Linked DNA regions of Homo sapiens: region 2 is linked to region 1. The links come from fine-mapping of genetic effects on gene expression. Tissue or cell type: neural progenitor cells. Region 1 holds a variant in brackets; the other region holds the start of a gene. All regions are shown on one strand. Distances are from middle to middle.

What was found. PIP is the estimated chance that this variant, and not a neighbour inherited with it, causes the effect.
Region 2: SPATA20 starts here. The variant in region 1 is fine-mapped to the expression of SPATA20 in neural progenitor cells (Aygun 2021, PIP 0.95).

The regions. Positions count from the first base shown.
Region 1 is chr17:50,513,149-50,515,902 of GRCh38, forward strand. The region is part of intron 1 of MYCBPAP (MYCBP associated protein); the gene reads left to right. Among named protein-coding and RNA genes, the nearest start is that of MYCBPAP, 6.1 kb to the left of the region's middle. The variant C/T (reference allele first, on the strand shown) is at 1,589.
Region 2 is chr17:50,545,803-50,548,302 of GRCh38, forward strand. SPATA20 (spermatogenesis associated 20) reads left to right here and starts at 1,372. Exons shown (of 17, transcript NM_022827.4): 1 at 1,372-1,483; 2 at 1,918-1,965; 3 at 2,481-2,500. The coding sequence starts at 1,407. RefSeq lists a silencer at 1,382-1,651.

The DNA.
Region 1 (2,754 bases):
CAGAGATTGCAGTGAGCCGAGATCACGCCATTATACTCTAGCCTGGGCAACAAGAGTGAAACTCCATCTCAAAAAAAAAAAAAAAAAAAAAAGCTGGGCATGGTGGCGCATGCCTGTATTCCCAGCTACTCGGGAGGCCGAGGCAGGAGAATCACTTGAGCCCGGGAGGCGGAGGTTGCAGTGAGCTGAGATCACACCACTGCACTCCAGCCTGGGGGACAGAGTGAGACTCCATCTCAAGAAAAAAAAAAAGATGTATATATCATTTTAATGAATATTTTAATAACTAGAACATACCACTCCCTGACTGTATGCAGTAACAGAGCATTTATTGGACTACATTAAAGATAACTTTCTCAGAATAACCTTAGACCAGAGTTTTACTATTTCAATCTAAAGCAAACATGAAAGATTAGCTTCTCTATCACTGAAGGGATGGGAGCTTTGGCCCCCAAAAATCTTCGGCAGTGTTGAAAGTTTCTATTGACACGTGGTAATTGTGCACCCACCAGTAAAAAGCACACATCTGGAGACGTTTAATCACTTGGAAAGATGTCAACCCAGCCAAGGTTATGGATAAAGGAAGCAAATGTCCTAGAAAGTACAGATAATACCAAAATATTTACAAAAACAGACCTTCAGCTGATCTCAGTTCTCATAGGCTGCCACCCACTTTGGTGAGTTTGTGTAGAAGGGAGAAGGGAGGTAGAAATCAAAGCCCAAGGCTGCATCCCCACACATGGCGGCAGATGAGACTGGAACTCGGGGTTCAGCCGGCAGCCCTGCATGTGTGTTTGTGTGCACAGAGCCATGCATTTAACAGACAGATACTTCCAAACCTCTGCTGACCCCATTACAGAAACAGACTGTGGATGATAGGCTGAATTTATTATTTTTTCTAATAGAAAAACAAAAATTATTTTTAAGGATAGGTTCTCCTGTGTTGCCCAGGCTGGTTTTGAACTCCTGGCCTCAAGCAATCCTCCCATCTCGGCCTCTCAAAGTGTTGGGATTACAAGCGTAAGCCACTGCACCTGGCCAACAGGCTGAATTTAGAACTATGTTTGGAATGATTTTGGTGTGAGTTTTTTTGGCCACCAACTCTATGGAAATTTCCTAAAAAAAGTTGGATTTTGTTAACCAAAACACCTGCCTTTATGTTTTCGTGATATTGCCTCTTAAAGATTACGGTGCTGTAAGAAGCAGTGGATAAAACCAAATTTTGTTTTAAACTCCCTAAAGGCCTCAGGACTTAGGTTTTCTTTTGATTGTTTTATGTAGGGCCTTATATCAAACCATTCTGAACCAGAGGGAAAATGACAGGGTTGACCAGCCAGAGAAATGAGATGTGTTTGATCCTGTTAAGCCACCTCTGTGAAAGGAAGGCAGGGAGTGTGTCCTCGTTGGAGAGTGACCTGTGACCCCCTTCTGCCCCGGGTGTTGTCAATGTCATGCTGTGGCTGCCACAACGGACTCTTAAATACATTCATACACTCATCCTCAGTCATGCAGGTTTTTTTTTTTCTTAGAGACAGGGTCTTGTTCTGTCACCCAGGCTGGAGTGCAGTGGCACAATCTTGGCTCACTG[C/T]AGCCTTCACTTCCTGGGCTCAGGTTATCCTTCCCCTCAGCCTCCCAAGTGGTTGGGACTACAGGCATGTACTACCATGCCTGGTTAATTTTTTGATTTTTTTTATAGAGCCCAGACTGGTCTTGAACTCCTGGGCTCAAGCGATCTGCCTGCCTTGGCCTCCCAAGATCTTGCAACTCTTAATCCATTCCTTGGCATGCCATTGCCCATGGGGTAAGCCTTCACATGGCTCACTGAGCTCTTCACGATATGGCGGCTGCTGCTGTCTCTGGGCTCTGCCTCTTCCCTCCCACCTCACCACACTCCAGCTATTCAAAAACACATGCTTTGAGTTCCAGGGATGTGCTCCATTCTTTGCCACTATGCCTCTTTATGTTATTTTCTTTGGAATGCCTGTTCCCCAGGGCCCTTTCCTTTCTCCAGCTTCTTCAGCTCTATTTAAACATCCCTTCCTTAGGAAGCCCTCCCTGACTCCCCCACCTCCCACGCCCGCCGACTCAGGGCTGGTTGTTCCCCCCCACCATGTTCCTGTAGTTACTCTGGCTCAGTCTGTTTCACGGTCTTGTTTCCCATTGGGCATGTGCTCTTTAAAGACAAGCTCTGGCATGTATCCCTAGAACCTAGCACAGTGCCTGGCATGTAGAAGCTGCTTAAACAATCTTTATTAAATGAATATGCAATAAATGGCCAGTGGTGAATGCTCTGCTTCCCCCACAGAGATTCTGCACTTTAACCAGTGTCTTGTGAAACCCTGTGCCTTCACCCAGAAGCATGGATCAGTGCCAGCACTGGAGGAGGCTGGCAAAACATCTAGTTCAGTTGTCCCAAACCACTGTGCATCAGAATCACCTAGGGAGTTGAAAAAAGTACAGCTCCCTAGGCCCTGGCTCCATGCAGTAGTCAGGAAGCTGTATTCATAAAACTCCCCCAAAGATTCTGAGGCAGACATTGGACTAATAACTTGGGAACCACTGATTTAGTCCAACTGACTCTTTCTACACATGGAAAGCCTGAGGCCTAGAGAGGTTAAGTGATGCGTACCCAAGACTGTCCAGCTTATAAATAGCATAGCCTGAAATGGAACATCTTTTTTGTATATTAAAAATAATCTTTTTTGTACAGATGGAGTCTCAACTATGTTGCCCAGGCTAGTCTTGAACTCCTGG
Region 2 (2,500 bases), 33 kb after region 1:
GGCAGATGGATCGCTTGAGGTCAGGAGTTTGAGACCAGCCTAGGCAACATGGCGAAACCCCGTCTCTACTAAAAATACAAAAATTAGCTGGGCATGGTGGCGCGCTCCTGTAGTCCCAGCTACTTGGAAGGCTGAGGCACAAGAATCGCTTAAACCTAGGAGGTGGAGGTTGCAGAGAGCCAAGATCCACTGCACTCCAGCCTGGGCAACAGAGTGAGACTCTGGCTAAAAAAAAATGGGGTCGGGTATGGTGGCTCATGCCTGTAATCCCAGCACTTTGGGAGGCCAAGGCAGATGGATCACCTGAGGTCAGGAGTTCGAGACCAGCCTTGAACCCAGGATGCGGAGGTTGCAGTGAGCCGAGATCACACCACTGCACTCCAGCCTGGGTGACAGAGCGAGACTCTGTCTCAAAAAATAAAAATCCCCTTCTTACAGTTCACGAGTGTCTCCAAGATCTTGCCTCTGCCCTCATCTACTGCCTGTCTTCCCTCTTTCTGCAGTTGCTCAGCCCGGACTCACTGACAAGCCACGGGACCTTTGCACAAACTGTACCTCTGCCTCCTTCCCCAGCACTCCCCCTGAGCACCCTCCAAGTTCCTTTCTCTCGTTCTCCATGGCTTCACAAATGTGATTTCCTCAGGGAAGCCTTCATCCTTTGCCCCTTCCACCAGATCAGGTCACTTGTTACGTTATACCCTCACGGACTTGTCACGTGGGTGTTTATCGGTATGGCTGTCGAATTAGCATCTGCCGCTCTCAACAGACTGTGAGCCATGTGAGGGCAGGAGCCTTGTTTCTCTCTGCCCACCATTGTATACTCAGTGCCTTGCAGAGTGGCAGGCGGCAGGCACTTAATAAATATTGGCTGAATGTAGCCAATGAGGCCATGTGTAACCTATGAGACATAAAATGGGCTCATCAGTATTATTTAAGGAAGACTTCCTGGAGTGGGTAGGATTTGAGTAGGACCTAGAGACGAGGAGGCTGCAAAAAGCAAACCTTGTTAGCTGGTGGACCTGGCCAAGGTACGCCTTCGCCTTGGATCTCATTTCTCATTTGTAAAATGGGCAGGGGTTGGACAAAATGAGCTGAAGCTCTGGCATCCCATGTCCCTAGCATCTCCCAGCCCTAGATCCCACAACTCTCCCTATTCCCTTGAGAAGGGCTGTCCTCCCCAGGCAGGGGCAGAGCCCAGTTTTATGCACAGAATGGGTCCTCCCAAGGCTCGGGTGCCTGATCTGCAATTCTGCGCTCCGCCGCAGGGCGACGCTCGGAGACCAGCCACACTGTCCCAAGTCCCGGCGAAGACCCGCCCGCGGCTCCGTAGGTGCCCGGCCCGCCCCTCGCAGCCTCCTGACTTCCCTTCCTGTCCTCAGCGGCCGGGCCCACGGCCCCGAGCAGCCATGCTGGGCGCGCGGGCCTGGTTGGGCCGCGTCCTTCTGCTGCCCCGCGCCGGTGCAGGCCTCGCCGCGAGCCGCAGGTACGGGCGGGCGAGCGGGCCCCTAGGGCACTCCCTGCGCCTGCCTGCGGGCCCAGTGGAGGGTCTTCCGGACACCGGTCCCCAGTGCCAGTCTGGACCACCCCTGCATGCCTGGCCCTTCCCCCACCCCACCTCCGGTCTGCTCCTGAGACCTGGCTCTGGCTGTAAGGCCCTCCTCCCCTCCTCTCCCGTCCTCATCCCTTCCCTCCTCTCCCCTTCCTTCCAGTGCAGTGCCAGCTCCTCAGGGACTGTTCTGACACTGCTTCCAGGAAGCCTTCCTTGCACCCCAGTGCTGGATGCTGGGTCAAGGGCCTTTCTCCAATAGTACCCTGTGCCCTGTCACAGTCCTTTATTGCTGCATGGACCTTTCGTTATTTAGGTCTGCCTGCAGTCCCACTTCCAGGCTGAACTCCCTGAGGTCTCTGATTCCCTAGGTGTCCTGGAGTCTGGCCCAGGACCTGGCCCCACAGGAGTCCCAGCAGGTGGGCGCTGAGTGAGGGAGTCCCCATGTCTGGTTTCCTCTGTTTGTCCCTCACCTGGTCGAGTCCCAGACCCTACTGATCTTGGCCTGTCCAGCCACCAACAGTAGGCTGCCTTCCAGTGGGGCCACACCCAGGCCTGCCAGAGAGATGCCTCCAAGCAGCTGCTCCAGGAAGGGCCGGGGGAGGGGCCTGGGGAGGGGTAAGAATGGAGCCCCAAGAACCATTCTGCCCATTGTGACCCGCCCTGACCTCACAGCCATCCTTCCCACCGCCAGGCCCAGGAGGTTGGGGGAGACTAACCTGGCAAGGAGCCCCCAATGAGCCACCTCTCCTCACCCCCCAAAAAACATAAGGGGGAGCACAAAGGCCACAGTCTCCCCCATGGTTCAGAAAGGTGGGTTGGGCTGGGAGCAGGGGTCCTACTGGGGTGCTGAGTGAAATGGAGCAGGTGCTGGGGGGCCTGGGAGAAGGTGGGTGGAGGCCCCTGGCTTGCCTGATGCACCAGTCCTCGCCAGGGGTAGCTCCTCCCGGGACA